2 separate regions of the Homo sapiens genome follow, and region 2 is linked to region 1. A link means that fine-mapping ties the variant in region 1 to the expression of a gene that starts in the linked region. Tissue or cell type: monocytes after triphosphate RNA. Region 1 holds a variant in brackets; the other region holds the start of a gene. All regions are shown on one strand. Distances are from middle to middle.

Region 1 (8,107 bases):
CTGGCTAATTTTGTATTTTTAGTAGAGACAGGGTTTCTCCATGTTGGTCAGGCTGGTCTTGAACTCCCGACCTCAGGTGATCTGCCCGCTTCAGCCTCCCAAAGTGCTAGGATTATAGGTGTGAGCCACCACGCCCGGTCTCTTCCTCTTTTCCTTTGGATCTGCACACTAAAATGGGACATGGTTCTCACCTATCATATTGTGGAGGGAAAATCTTAAAATTTCAAGTCGCTGAAGTAAACATGTAGATACTCAGCATACTGCTAGGAATGAGCCTAATACCCCAATCATAAGCATCCTTACAGTCCAGGCAGTATCTAGGAGCATAATCAAGTCCTGTATTTCACTGATTTATAATTGTATTTTACTACATTAAAACCAATGGGTTTTCTTATTCATTTAGCCATAAGTAGATAAAAATTGAAAGGTATCTTTAATGTAGTATTTAAAATATATCTTCTAAGACAACTGTGCATAAAAAATATCATGGATTTGTACTTTACATTCATAAGAGGGACTTTAGATAGGTCAGTTTGAAAGAAAAGCGTGGTGATTGAAAAGAGGGAAGTAAAAAAGACAAAATAAAAACAAAAAATTAAGGCAATTATTTCCTCAGCAGTGTTCTTCCACATATTTACTCCCTGACAGAGGTAATATTCAAAATGGCTTCCAACTGTTCAAAACTGAGCTCCCAGTAGCACCCAGTATCTTGTGAGAAAACCAGGATGAGGTTTCATATATAAACCTAACTTGATTTCCAGTCAATTCTTAAGGAACCTGTAATCAGGAAAGAGATGTTATAACCCAGAGAGAGGAGAAGTGAGCTCCGAATGCTTCAGAGACAGTCAAACCAGTATAACCTGTCTAGTAAAATAAGCATTTTCAGTTTAGATGGTGAGAACTAATATTCTGCCCCTGAAAAATCTGCCTGATTTGGCTTGTCATCATTTGCCCAGGCCATTGAATTAATAGTGATGTCCAACCCTGAAAAGGGAGCCAAAATTTAGAATTGTAAGGGCAAAGCAGGAAAGGAGAGTAAAATATAGAAATGTGTTAGATGTCAAGAACTCTATTCTGGAGTTAATGATTATTGGGTATTAGTCAATTTAAATGGTAAATATAGCACAGAAAAGGCGATTTTAAAAAGCAATGGTTTTTAAACATCTACCTGTATTCAAAGATAACATATTCTAAAATTTTTATATCCTCCCTAATCCCAGCTATTCCTATCAAATTTAAAGGAAGGTATATTATATGCTTACCTGGTGCCAGATCTTATTTTGGGCATTTTTCCTGAGTAAACTGAATGGAAAATCACTACTAAAGAGCATTCTGACTTTGGAAACACAGGAACCCTGCCAAATGATTTAAATTGTTTCCTTCAAGCAGCATTAGTAACTAGGAAATTGATATGTCAGTAAGAAGCATACAGTTCTTGTCAGTAGGAATATATCAATCTTGAGAATATGATTAACTAACACAACACTGCTTGACAAATGTCAAAGTCAAGAACTTTGAAATGAGTCATTATCTAAAAGTAAGTGCTGGGCTGGGTGCAGTGGCTCATGCCTGTAATCCCAGCACTTTGGGAGACCGAGGCAGGTGGATCACCTGAGGTCGGGAATTTGAGACCAGCCTGTCCAACGTGGAGAAACCCCGTCTCTACTAAAAATACAAAATTAACCGGGCGTGGTGCCGTTTGCCTGTAATCCCAGCTACTAGGGAGGCTGAGGCAGGAGAATCACTTGAACCCGGGAGACAGTGAGCTGATATCGCGCCACTGCACTCCAGCCTGGGCAACAAGAGCGAAACTCCGTCTCCAGAAATAAATAAATAAATAAAAGTAAGTGCTGAATTGCACCAGTTCCCACTAATGAATTTGAAGAACGTGATTTTGGATAATGTTCTTATCAAGAAGTGTTCAAATGATACCAATAGTCAAATATTAGAGGAAATGCTTCTACTCCAGATAACTGGTCTTTTACACAATTAAGAAAAAAATTGTCCTCACAAAAAAGTTAAGGTGTTTTTCATCACCAAATATATCCAGTTAATCAATTATTATTTGAAATTCTGAACTCCCATCAAATTATAGATAACTTCAAGGAACCATAAAAAACATACTAAGGGCGGGGCATGGTGGCTCACACCTGTAATCCCAGCACTTTGGGAGGCTGAGGCTGGAGGATCACTTGAGCTCAGGAATTCGAGACCAGCCTGGCCAACATGGCGAAACCCTGTCTCTACCAAGCATACAAAAAACTAGCTGGGTGTGATGGCACATGCCTGTGTTCCCAGCTACCTGGGAAGTTGAGATGGGAGGATCACTTGAGCCCTGGATGCGGAGGTTGCGGTGAGCCAAGATCGCACCACTGCACTCCAGCCTGGGTGGCAGAGTGAATAATAATTCAGATGAGTCCAGGTCTTTCTGGTAGCATTTAGCATGTAAAACTGTTGTCATGATTCATCAGCTCAGATGATTTGTTGTCTAATCCATAGTCCCAGATTTCTTAAAATGCACTGGTATGTTAGTGCTAATATAAAATAAAATGATCTATCATATAAAATTTAAAGTAGGTATATTTGCACCTAATTATTCTTTAAGTTAACTGATTCGTTCCTAGGATATTCAGATAATAAATAAACTTACCATTTGTTATTGAGGTGCAATAAAAGGTTTATGATTTTATTTTTTACTCAAATAGAGTAAAAAAACTTCAATTGAATTTAGTAGATACGATTAAAATCAGCTGTGCCTGGGGTTCTAAGCAGCTATCCAGAAGTAAAGGTACCCTATCTTCCAACAGTAAAATTAAGTTATAGTTTTGGTCCCCACATTTGGGCTTGTCCTTTGTTTAGTGGCATATGTTCAAATTAAGAATTCTTTGGAGTTTTCTGATCCTACTATATATTTTTCATGACAAGCAAAGCCAAATTATTAGTGAAGGTGCTGTCAAAAAAAGGTTCTAAAAGGAACATTTGTTTTTCTGTTTACAGAAAATGTACAAACAGGGTGTTTATCTTCAACCCCAAAAAAGGAGATTGGAAAGATCTGGCTCCAATGAAAATTCCTCGTTCCATGTTTGGAGTAGCAGTCCATAAAGGCAAAATTGTGATTGCAGGAGGTGTCACTGAAGATGGTCTTTCAGCTTCAGTTGAAGCTTTTGACCTTACAACAAATAAGTGAGTTGCCACATCTTAGTATATAGCATGTGAACAACTATACATTTTAATTGTTAACTTTGGATAAAAAGTTATCTTTCTAATTAGGATGTGGGGAGGGGAGGGTACAGAGCCACAGATTACAAAGGAAGTATTTTCATCTGGGTTTCTTTTGTTGTTACTGGATGTAAATCTTGTCTAACATTCTGATGCATTATATGTCTGTAATCTGGAACACATGACCCTTAAGTCAGTGTTGTCATGCTCTATTTGTCCTTGTTATTAACTTTGTGAATTTAGAAATGCAAAGGTAATACTTGTGAATAATTATGATTATTTTTAAGAGACAAGGTCTGGCTCTGTCACCCAGGCTGGAGTGCAGTGGCACAATCATAGCTCACTGCTGCCTCAAACTCCTGGGCTCAGGTGATCCTCTCACCTCAGGCTCCTGAGTAGCTAGGACTACCACTATGCCCAGCTAATTTTTGTTTTTGTTTTTGTTTTTGGTACAGACAGGGTCTCACTATGTTGTCCATACTGGTCTCTAACTCCTGGCCTCAAATGATCCTCTCACGGTGGCCTCCCAAAGTGCTAGGATTATAGGTGTGAGCCAGCACACCTGGCCCTGAATAATTGTCTGTGTAGATGGATATACATGTCTCTGTGGAATCATTTGATTTTAAATGTAGTTTCTTTATGAAAAGATCTTCACTTAACTTGTTAATGATTGATATCTGTAAAGTATGAATGCTTCCCAAGTTTTCATTCCTTTACGCTGTTTATAATTTTATTAAAAATTTCATTTTTAAGCTTTTATTGACTTAATGTGAAAAGATATTTGACAGCTATTCTTCATATAAAATTGGTCTTTTTAAAATTTTTGAGCTCACACATCTGGATGAGTATGTACCTTTTATATTCCTAGTTTAGCAATGAAGAAAAAAGAGAAATATTATTACTTTTTTTAGAAACATGTATGCCTGACTACAAAACAGACTTTAGTATCTGAAAATTACAAGGAACTTTTGTGGAACACTATTTAAATTATCATTAAAAATAATGTTTTCGAAGACTGTAATGTGGGTAAACACTCATGATGTAAGTTAAGAAGCAACACACAAAAATTGTAAATATCTTCTTAGTTTCATTTATATGTATGGAAGCTTAAATGTACATGCTTTTTAAAAAGATGACAAAATTACACCAAATTGTTGCTTGTGATTATGTCTGTAAGGTATGATTATGGAGATATCTGCTCTCTTGTATACCTTTCTGTACTTTCCAGATTTTCTCAAACTTTTTTTTTTTTTTTTTGAGACAGGGTCTCACTGTGTCACACAGGCTGGAGTACAGATTTTCTATAATGTACATATATTATTTTTATAATTAGAAAAAAATCGGCTAATTTTTTGTATTTTTAGTAGAGATGGGGTTTCACCATGTTGGTCAGGCTGGTCTCGAACTCCTTACCTCAGGTGATCCACCCACCTAGGCCTGCCAAAGTGCTAGGATTACAGGCATGAGCCACCGTGCCCGGCCTTAGGGTTGCCATATTGAAGGCTTTATATTTAATGAAGTTACATCTTTCAAATATTTTCTAGTAGCAAACTTAGTCATTTACTTTTAGATGCCTGTGCTCCTTGAATTTTTTTTTCCCCCCTTAAAGACAGGGTTTTGCTCTATCACCCAGGCTGGAATGCAGCAATGCGATCATAGCTCACCGCAGCCTTGACCTCAAGGGCTCAAGAGATCCTCCCAAGTAGCTGGGACTATAGGGACATACCACCAGGCCTAGCT[CTGTGTGTGTG/C]TGTGTGTGTGTGTGTGTGTGTGTGTGTGTGTGTGTGTGTGTGTGTGTAGACAGTCCATTTTGTTGCCCAGGCTGGTCTCATACTCCTTGGGCTCAAGCTATCCTCCTGCCTCAGTGTGTGTGTGTGTGTGTGTGTGTGTGTGTGTGTGTATGTGTGTGTGTGTGTGTGGAGGCAGTCCATTTTGTTGCCCAGGCTGGTCGCATACTCCTTGGGCTCAAGCAATCCTCCTGCCTCAGTCTCCCAAAGTGCTGGGATTACGGGCATGAGCCACCGAACCCAGCCGCTACTTGAATATTTATTTTTTATTTAGATGGAGTCTCGCTCTGTTGCCCAGGCTGGAGTACAGTTGCACAATCTCAGCTCACTGCAACCTCCGCCTCCCAGGTTCAAGTGATTCTCCTGCCACAGCCTCCCAAATAGCTGAAATTACAAGTGCGCGCCACCGTGCCTGGCTAATTTTTTGTATTTTTGGTAGAGGTGGGGTTTCACCATGTTGGTCAGGCTGGTCTCAAACTCCTGACCTCAGGTGATCTACCCGTCTCAGCCTCCCAAAGTGCTGGGATTACCGGCATGAGCCACCGCGCCTGGCTGCCTGGCCACTACTTGAATTTTTAAATTATTATTTCCTATAATTATTCAGTAAGTACATCTGGCATTTCTTTAAGTTTTACATTGACTATATTTTTAATGATACCTAGATGGGATGTAATGACCGAATTTCCCCAAGAAAGAAGCTCCATCAGTTTGGTCAGCCTGGCTGGATCTCTGTATGCAATTGGTGGTTTTGCTATGATTCAACTGGAGTCTAAAGAATTTGCACCCACTGAAGTCAATGACATATGGAAGTAAGTTCTCATCACTTCAATTTTCAGAATCACATATTAAATCAGATGACTGATAAACTATTTTGTAGTAAACAATAAGCCAGATTTTCCCAACATGCAAGCTACTTCTTGGTAGTAGACTAAACACTTCAAACCTAATTGAACTTCTGTACATGCCACTTACTTGAACAAGTATCTACTTCTAGTTAGCTCTGAGCCTGAGAAAGAAATCATCTGGGCAGGCCTGTTTCTTACTGTAAAATGAGAGTTGGACCTTTGATACTCTCAGTTTCATTCCAGCTCTAAGAGTATAATGCTATAGGCATCCAGTAGAGTGAAAGCCTCTTTGCTCCAGAGTAGTTTATTTCCTAACAAAACAGAGTTCTAAAAAAAATTTTATGTTTTTTACTTTTTTATTTTTATTTTTTTGAGACAGAGTTTCTGTCACCCAGGCTGGAGTACAATGGCGGGATCTCAGCTCACTGCAACCTCGGCCTCCCAGGTTCAAGTGATTCTCCTGCCTCAGCCTCCCGAGTAGCTGGGATTACAGGCATATCCACCACGCCCAGCTAATTTTTATATTTTTAGTAGAGACGGCATTTCGCCATGTTGGCCAGGCTGGTCTCGAACTCCTGACCTCAGGTGATCCACCCGCCTCAATCTCCCAAAGTGCTAGGATTACAGGCGTGAGCCACGTACCCAGCCTAAAGAAACATTTAACCTCTTGAGCTTTCCACTACTTCATTAGTTCTGTTTTCAATCTAATTTAAACAGCTTTCCAATTGTTTTAGGCTTCAGCTAATAAATGCTTTTTTAAAATGAAAAAAGTCAAAATAGCAATCCATTTTACCTGCCTGGAGGTGCCAGGCAGTTCTCCTAAGTATGACACTTGAAACTGTTACTCAATTGAACATTTTAGTGAGGCTATTAAAAAAAAAGTTTGTTTTTATTTTATTTTGAACTGAGATCGCGCCACTGCACTCCAGCCTCAGCTACAGAGCGAGTCTTAAAAGAAAAAAAAAAAAAGAAAAAAGAAACACAGAATCCCAGACCCTACTGAATGAGAATCTGTATTTTTTAACAAGATTCTTAGGTGAATTGTTTGCACATTTAAGTTTATAAGTACAGCTTTGGAAGAGTGCCATTTATACTTAATCAGTGAAGGCATACCACTAAGCCTGAGAGTGAAAAGTGGGTATTATTTGTTCTATACCTTAACCAGCAGATGCTTTATTCCCAGATGCTGAACTAAAAAGGCTGAAAAGCTGGTACCTTAACCAAACAATGATTTGTGCATTAGACATCATTTCCCCATGTTGTAATATTAACTAGCTGTGTAGAGGGCAAGAAAAAAAGTGGCTATGCAAGGAAATTAACTACTTTCCCTCCTCCCCCCAAAAAAGAGGGAGAAAGAGAAAAAAAATGAGATTTCCACGGAGCAAAGAGGCTAGAATTAGCAAAACAGTGAGATGGGGAAAAGCTGGAAGCAGTAGGAAAAAAGGATGAACTAATGAAGGCCGGGAAGGTTAGGGTTTTTTGGAAAACAGGGCCAGGTACCAAATATATAAATGGGCAGTGATTCTCAACCCTAGCTGTATGTTACAATCATCTGGGATGCTTTTAAAATATACCAGTGTCTGGGCCTTAACACAGACCAATTATATCAAAATTTCTGGAGGTAGAGTTGAGCATCCCTAGTTCCTAAAACCTTCCCAGTGATTTTTTTTTTTTTTTTTTTTTTTTTTTTTTTTGGTGAGACAGAGTCTCACTCTGTCACCCAGGCTGTAGTGCAGTGATGTGATCTTGGCTCATTGCAACCTCCAGCTCCTGGGTTCAAGCGATTCTCCTGCCTCAGGCTCTGGAGCAGCTGGGACTACAGGTGTGCACCACCATGCCCGGCTAATTTTTGTATTTTTAGTAGAGATGGGGTTTCACCATATTGGCCAGGCTGGTCTTGAACTCCTGACCTCAGGTGATCCACCCACCTCAGCCTCCCACAGTGCTGGGATTACAGGCGTCAGCCACCGAGCCCAGCCCCAGATGATTCTAATCAGCAGCCAGGGTTGAGAAACACTGATATTAAGTAATTGTGCTGTCAATCAGTGGGACCTCCCTGAAGCCCTCCTGGTTCCTAAGGGTTATCAAAAGCCATGCTGCCCCTGCAGGGAACAGTTACAGGCAGCAAAAGAAAGTACAGAATCTCCTGCTATAAAAGTGGCCCTGACATTGTTTAGGGAACCTAAAAGAGGGATCCTCTCTGATTGTGGTTTATTTTGCGATTAGAGCAGTGGTTCCCAAAGTTGCCTGCACGTT
Region 2 (8,104 bases), 64 kb after region 1:
AAATTCACCCATTTAAAGTGTACAATTCAATGGCTTTTTAGTATATTCACAGAGTTGAGAAGCTATCACTCACATTTAGAACATTTTCATAACTCCAAAAAGAAACCCTGTAACCATTAGCAGTCACTCCCCATGTCTCCCTCACCCCCTCCTGTCCTCCAATACTTTAGACAACCACTAATCCCAGACAATAATTTTATACAGCACTGATTTGGGTTGCTTGGAACTAGATCAACTGATAATAGATCTGAGATGAAGGTAATCTGAATGCACAGCATAGAAGGGGTTTTCAAACAAATGTAAGAAAAACATAGAGATGAAACAGCATGATCCAAGTCATTGCCTTCCAGTCAAAAAACACCAGGAACACATATAGTTAAACAAAGTTGGGTTTATTGACTGGTTGCAATGAAGTAGGCTGTACCCTAAGAGGTGTCTCCATAAGAAGGTGTTAGAAAGTTGTCATTATAGCATATAGTCTTGGCCAGGCACAGTGGCTTACACCCATAATCCCAGCACTTTGGGAGACTGAGACAGGCAGATCACTTGAGGTCAGGAGTTCGAGACCACCTTGGCCAACATGGTGAAACCCCATCTCTACTAAAAATACGAAAATTAGCCAAGCATGGAGGCACATGCTTATAATCCCAGCTACTTGGGAGGCTGAGGTGGGAGGATCACTTGAATCCGGGAGGCAGAGGTTGCAATAAGCCAAGATTGCACCACTGCACTCCAGCCTGGGCAACAGAGCGAGACTCTGTCTCGAAAAAAAAAATTTTTTTTAGCCTTGTGTTAAGTGATTTTGGAGAGTTTTAGAGTGGTTTCTCTAGATTGGATGCTGTGAGTAAGCAAGGGTAATTCTATTCTAATAATCTTGATCTAGAAGGCAGGAAGAATGAACTGAGGTTAAAGCTGTAATTGATAAAGAAACAGCAGCCATTCATATTAGCAAGGATAGATGGATATTTCGTCTTTTTTTTTTTTTTTTTTTTGAGACAGAGTCTCACTCTGTCACCCAGGCTGGAGTGCAATGGCACGATCTCAGCTCAATGCAAGCTCCACCTCCCAGGTTCACACCATTCTCCTGCCTCAGCCTCCCAAGTAGCTGGGACTACAGGCGCCTGCCACCACACCTGGCTAATTTTTTGTATTTTTAGTAGAGACAGGGTTTCACCGTGTTAGCCAGGATGGTCTTGATCTTCTGACCTTGTGATCCGCCTGACTTGGCCTCCCAAAGTGCTGGGATTACAGGCGTGAGCCACCATGCCCGGCCGATGTTTGGTCGTTTTTACAGTTTGTACAATGTTCTTGTTTTTGTCTGAAACAAGATTATGGAAGTGTCTGGTTTTTTCCTTGATCCATCACAATCAGAGAATGGCATGCTTTTAAAAAAAACTAAACATATTATTGGTGATACAGTAGACAACTATTAATAGAACAAACAACAGTTTGTTGTTGATCTATGGGTAGAAACAAAAAGTTTTATTACTCTAAAGCAAAAGTCACAGGTAAAGTAAAGGTTAATTGCAGTAGCCCAGCCAACCTACCTCCCTTCTTCTGGTATCAAATCCCATTCCTCATACTACAATGACTGAAGTGATCCAGGCTAGGCCAAATCTAATACTTTAGGCTCACAGCCTATTAGATTGGTAGTGGTATCTGGTGTAACAAATAAAGCCAAACATCAGTGATTTAACCCACATAATTTGATTTATCAGTCACACCACATTCCAATGTGGATATCCCTAGTCAGTGGAAGAGGACTTTTCTCCAAACAGAGATTCAGGGAAGTAGACCTTTTCCATAGGCCCTTCCCCAGGGCCTTAAAACATTCTGGTTCAGCTGACAAAACAGGAAGAGAGGGAATGGAGAAGGCATAGCACTTCACAAACATTTTGGCCTGGATGTCCGCTCACTTTCCACTGACACAAAGTATATTTTATTTATTTTATATTTTATTTTATTTTATTTTATTTTATTTATTTTGACATGGAGTCTTGCTCTGTCACCCAGGCTAGAGTGCAGTGGTGCAATCTTGGCTCACTGCAACCTCCACCTCCTGGGTTCAAGCGATTCTCCTGCCTCAGCCTCCCAAGTAGCTGGGATTACAGGTGCCCACCACTGTGCCCGGCTAATTTTTGTATTTTTAGTAGAGCTGGAGTTTCACCATCTTGGCCAGGCTGGTCTCAAACTCCTGACCTCGTGATCCACCCATCTCAGCCTCCAAAAGTGCTGGGATTACAGGCATGAGCCACCACGCCCGGCCCCAAAAAGCATTTTTAAATCCTTACCTATGGGATAATAAATGTTGTTTCAAGCCACTAAGATACAAGGGGACAGCTAAAAAATGTAGTTCTTAGCAGAACAGACACTTTCCAGTGACACCCCCTACTATGTAAGTGGGAGTACAAATTTTGGAGCTGTTACTGCTATGTTAGTAAAATACTTCTCTGGCATTTGATGATTCGGGCTGGCAGAAACTCAGATCCTTATGATGTGAGGTCATCACTGGGTGAGGTGGTACATACCTGTAGTCCCAGCTACTCTGGAGACTAAGGTGGGAGAATCGCTTGACTCCAGGAGTTCAAGTCCATCCTGAGCAACATAATGAGACCCTGTCTCTAGAAAAAAAGAAAAAAAATGAAGCTATGTAGAATTAGACAAGTGAAAAGTTCCGTGATAATCAGTCTATTCTTTCTTCTCTGTGTCAGTTATCCCTTGCTGTGTGACAAAATCATCCCAAAACTTAGTGGCTTAAACAACACTTATTTATATATATATACACATATATACACACACACGTACATATATGTGTGTGTATATATATGTATATATACACATATATAGTATATGTATACATACACACACTAGGATAATAAATATATATATAAATATATATAAGGAAACTATAGGATAACAAATGTTGTTTATTATATACACTATACATACAGTATCCTTCCATTTATTTATTTTTATTTAAGTTGTGGGGTACATATGCAGGTTTGTTACAGAGGTAAACTTGTGTAATGGGGGTTTGTTGTACAGAATATTTCATCACCTAGGTATTAAGTCTAGGACCCATTAGTTATTTTTCCTGATCCTCTCCCTCCTCCCACTGTCTACACTCTGATAGGCCCCAGTGTGTATTGTGCCCCTCTATGTCTTCATGTGTTCTCATCATTTAGCTCCCACTTATAAGTGAGAACATGTGGTACTTGGTTTTCTGTTTCTGCATTAGTTTGCTAAGGATAATGGTCTCCAGCTCCATCCATGTTCCTGCGAAGGGCATGAGATCATTCTTTTTCATGGCTGCATAGTATTCCATGGAGTATATGTACCACATTTTCTTTATCAAGTCTACCATTGATGGACATTTAGGTTGACTCCATGTCTTCGCTATTGTGAATAGTGTGGCAATGAACATACATATGTGTATGTCTTTATAACAGAACAACTTATATTCCTTTGGGTATATACCCAGTAATGTGATTGCTGGGTCAAATGGTATTTCTGCCTCTAGGTCTTTGAGGAATCGCCACGCTGTCTTCCACAATAGTTGAATTCATTTAAACTCCCACCAGCACTGTAAAATGTTCCTTTTTCTCCACAACCTCACCAGCACCTGTTATTTTTTGACTTTTTAATAATAGCCATTCTGACTGGTATGAGATAGTATCTCACTGCGGTTTTGATTTGCATTTTTCTGATGATTGGTGGTGTTGAGCTTTTTCATTATGATTGTTGGCTGCAAGTATGTCTTCTTTCGAAAAGCGTTGGCCGGGCGTGGTGGCTCACACCTGTAATCCCGGCACTTTGGGAGGCCAAGGAGGACGGATCACCTGAGGTTGGGAGTTTGAGACCAGCCTGACCTACATGGAGAAACCCTGTCTCTACTAAAAATACAAAAAATTAGCCAGGCCAGTCTGTGGCCCAGGGGTTGGGGACCCCTGTTTTAAGGTATTGCAGAATTGTCCCCTCCACACACAGCGAAGTGTAAATCCGTTTAATCTCTGAACTATCTAAAGATGAATATGCTGCTGCTCTCCTGCAATAAAGGGCAATGACTTAAAAGAGGTGGGGGTGGAGAGGCAGAAATGTCCTCTGTTTTACTGCTGTGTAAAACTGGTCACGCCCCTTAGAAGCACCACCACATGCCTAACTGTTGTTGATAATTAATTTACCTGATGCAAGTGAGTGAAAAATTTAAATGATCATAATTTACGTTGCCTTTAAACGACAGAACAATTTAAGTCCTCTAGTTAGCTAGTTCCTTTAAAACACACCCCACATCCCTACCAGAATCACTGCCCATCCCCCCCCACCCCCCCGCCCAAACAGCAATGGTTATTTATTTCTAACATAATCCGGGGACCCTTGCCCCTTAAAATAATTAAATAATATATGCCATATTTTCTCTAGAAGGCACTAGATTTGGCATCAAAAGACTTGCTTTGGCATTCAAGAACAGTGTGTTTGAGGAGGAGGCGTTTATCTTCCCTGAGCCTCAATTTCTTTATCTGTAAAACAACAAAGAACATCAAAGCTCTTTGTAATTTCTTCCTCTTTCCTCAAATAACACTTTGCTCATTACTGCGTTTTTAGAACTTATATCCTAGCGTTAAGTGGAAGCTTAACTGGAAGCTCCATGAAGGTAGGCCTTCCTTTCTGATAACCTAGCGTAAGATCAATAAATGTTTATTAAATGAGGCACTTTACTTCACAAAGGATATGGCATTTTAACGGTTACAAGCGTTCCCAGTCAACGCATCCACAAAGCATTAGGCCACCTATAAACTAGGAATTTAAAAGGCACCAAAATCCTAGAAGTCCTAGGAGGGCGTGGTGACGCAAGCAGGTGAACGCTGGCCGATGCTGACAACCCACTCCTGACGCGCTTCCGGTGCGACGCTGTCTCTCCATGCCAGGACTGAGTTGTGGGGGAGGGAGGCGGTTAGCGGGCTTTAGCGCCTTTTCTGGCGGCGGTAGATTTGAAGCGCTTCAAAGGACCGGACCCAGAGAAGAGGAAAACTCTACCGGTGCAGGTAAGTGGTATGAGGCTCAAGTTGTTCTGGCGGCGTCATTTCAGCAGTCCCTGCGTACGAAAGCGGGAAGGGCCTGGGAAGAGGGGCGGAGCCGGCGCGGCTGACCGGGTTGGGTTTACCGTCTTTCCCTCGAGGTATCGGGGCTGCTTGGGCCCAGAGGAAGTCCCTGAGGACCGCAGCAGTGCCTTTGCCGCTGTTGCAGAAGGAGAAGGCTTGCAGTCGAGCCCCGGGGCCTGGGGACGGTCCTTCCTCTGCCAGCCCCCGCCCTCCCCACTCAGGCGCACACCTCCCTCACTGACGCATTTTGCCGCACAAGCTGTAACATGGCGGCAGCGACTGCGGCCTGAACTCTAGGGAGCCGGGTTGATTTTTAAAGCTTCAAAATCCTAAGACTCAGCACTGTTGCGGGGTAGGTGGCGGGACTGGTGGGGAAGGGGGAGACAGCCTGACGTCCTGTCAGGCTAGGGTTGGAGAGTGACGGGCGAAGAGCCTGAATCACAGGGATTAAAATTGAAGACTAGCTTTCCTCCTCTTTCGACCTTTTCCTCTCACAGCACAGTGGCTGTCGTGCAGTTAAGTGGCAGAGGCCACTTTGTTAAGCATTTTTCTAAAACTCAAGTCCAGGGTCTTGAGCTCTCGCGAAGTTCCCCCGTGTTTCGGAGGAGCTGTGAGCTGCGCAGGCCTTTTAGGAGGAGATAATTACTCTTTAGGAGGAAGATGATGATTTCGGGGCTCAGTATGCCTGAAGGGGAAGTATGCTAATTTGGTTCTTGGTTAGTCTTTTTTTTTGAGACGGAGTCTCGCTCTGTCGCCTAGGCTGGAATGCAGTGGCGCGATCTTGGCTCACTGCAACCTCCGCCTCCTGGGTTCAAGTGATTCTTCTGCCTCAGCCTCCCAAGTAGCTGGGACTACAGGCACGTGCCACCATGCCCGGCTAATTTTTTGTGTTTTTAGTAGAGACGGGTTTTCACCGTGTTAGCCAGGATGGTCGATCTCCTGACCTCGTGATCCGCCCACCTCGGCCTCCCAAAGTGCTGGGATTACAGGCGAGAGCCACCGCGCACGGCCAGCTCATGTTTAGTCTTAAGGAGCAAAGTCTAGATGTGCTGGCAAGGAGTATGCACAATCGTTTTGGAAATGCTATAAAAGCACCATTTTGTGCATTGATTTTAATTTCTTTCCACGATAGCCCTTTCTGTGTGTAACCAACATTTTGCAGTAGTGAACACAAATACAAAAGTATTTGCTTTTATAGTTTGGTACTAACATAGTTGTCCAAAGAACAATTAGATGTTTTAGAAATTAGGGGGGCCTGATATTAACTTTCAGTAGTTAAAACCAGGAAAAAAGAGTGAGTGTGTGTGTGTGTCGGTCACACACACGTTTTTGTCTTTGTGTATTCCCATTTGGTAACAGGATGGCCGGTAATTGCTACTTTGTAACAATGACGGGTGGGGGGGTGAACATTTTATAAATTTTGAAATCGTGCTATAAAATCCAGAAAAGATACATTTAGAATGGCTGCTTCTCTCCTGTTTTTAATATATCCTGAAAATTTACCCGTTTTAGCACTCCCCTTTTTTTTATGTTAACGAGTTGGGACAGAATTATTTCTGTAACAAATTACATGGTTCTGTGTCTTAAACAAGAGTTCATTGTACATTGTTTGACTATTTCTTTATGATTCAGAATTATTGATGCTCTGAGATCCTATAGGGTCTTGTAGTAGGATTCTGCGCATTTGAATTGTTGGTTTCCTTTTTAAGGCTTTTCTAGGCAGTCAGTTGTCAGGAGTGCTCCTGCTGTCAGGAGTGTATAAGTATGTAAACTTCTTAGGTTAGAAAAATTTGGACTTTCTGGCCCAATTATCTTTCTGAGCTTCAGTTTCTTCACCTACCTGCAAAATGACATTTTGATCTCCACCTTCCATCAACTGTGGGCTTGAAAATTAAATACTCAGCTTTGTTAAAATTGTGTGTGAAGTTGGCTTTCATTAACTCAGTGGTTCCTTTATGGGTGAAGAGTGTTCATTACATTTATTTTTAACCATATAGTCGATTTACTGTGGTGCTTATTATTGTGGTCTTGCAGTATTGGTGACTTCTACATATTTTTGATATTTTGCCTTAAATTAGATTTTCTGTGAGGCAGCATCCTCTTCTTTATACAAAGGGAAAGTGGAAGCCATTCATAATAAAGTACTTCTGTTAGGACACTATCTGGGGTTAATTCTTTAAATAGTAGTTGCCCCTTTAGTTAGGCTTTTTTCCTTCCTATTAGTTTATAAATAGAGTATTTAAACATAATTATAACATGTTGTCTATTTTTAGAATCCCAGTGTACTAAGATGTCATGAAGGAATACATAGATAATTAATGCAAGTGACCTGAAGAGTTTGTTGCAAGTCTTTCTGTTGCATTGTGGCATTGCATGCTTTTTGCTTTTATTTATTTATTTTTTTCAGACAGAGTCTTGCTCTGTCGCCCAGGCTGGAGTGCAGTGGCATGATCTCAGCTCACTGCAACCTCCACCTCCTGAGCTCAAGGGATTCTCACGCCTCAGCCTCCCTAGTAGCTGGGAGTACAGGTGCCTGCCACCACACCGGGTAATTTTTATATTTTTAGTAGAGAAGGGGTTTCACCATGTTGGCTACGCTGGTCTCAAATTCCTGACCTCAAGTAATCCATCCGCCTCCGCCTCCCAAAGTGCTGGGATTACAGGCGTGAGCCACTGTGCACTGTGCCCAGCCTGACTTTTGCTTTTTTTTTTGAGACAGAGTCTCGCTGTCTTGCCCATACTGGAGTGCAGTGGCGTGATCTCGGCTCACTGCAACCTCCGCCTCCCGGGTTCAAGCAATTCTTCTGCCTCAGCTTCCTGAGTAGCTGGGATTACAGGCATGTGCCACCACACCCAGCTGATTTTTGTATTTTTTATAGAGATGGGGTTTCACCATGTTGGTTAGGCTGGTCCCAAACTCCTGACCTCATGATCTGCCCACCTTGGCCTCCCAAAGTGCTAGTATTACAGGCGTGAGCCACCGTGCCCAGACCTTTTTGCTTTTA

Direction of the effects. Alleles are on the strand shown, and positions count from the first base shown. SD is a standard deviation of normalised expression in the study named.
With allele C in place of CTGTGTGTGTG in region 1, the expression in monocytes after triphosphate RNA of the gene that starts at base 4,903 in region 2 is higher (large effect, 0.94 SD a copy in Kim-Hellmuth 2017).

What was found. PIP is the estimated chance that this variant, and not a neighbour inherited with it, causes the effect.
Region 2: PPIG starts here. The variant in region 1 is fine-mapped to the expression of PPIG in monocytes after triphosphate RNA (Kim-Hellmuth 2017, PIP 0.95).

What each region holds. Positions count from the first base shown.
Region 1 is chr2:169,515,193-169,523,299 of GRCh38, forward strand. It overlaps KLHL41 (kelch like family member 41), which reads left to right. Exons shown (of 6, transcript NM_006063.3): 4 at 2,998-3,183; 5 at 5,669-5,815. Among named protein-coding and RNA genes, the nearest start is that of KLHL41, 9.5 kb to the left of the region's middle. The variant CTGTGTGTGTG/C (reference allele first, on the strand shown) is at 4,960.
Region 2 is chr2:169,579,449-169,587,552 of GRCh38, forward strand. It overlaps PPIG (peptidylprolyl isomerase G), which reads left to right and starts at 4,903. Exons shown (of 14, transcript NM_004792.3): 1 at 4,903-5,042. RefSeq lists an enhancer at 4,819-4,868.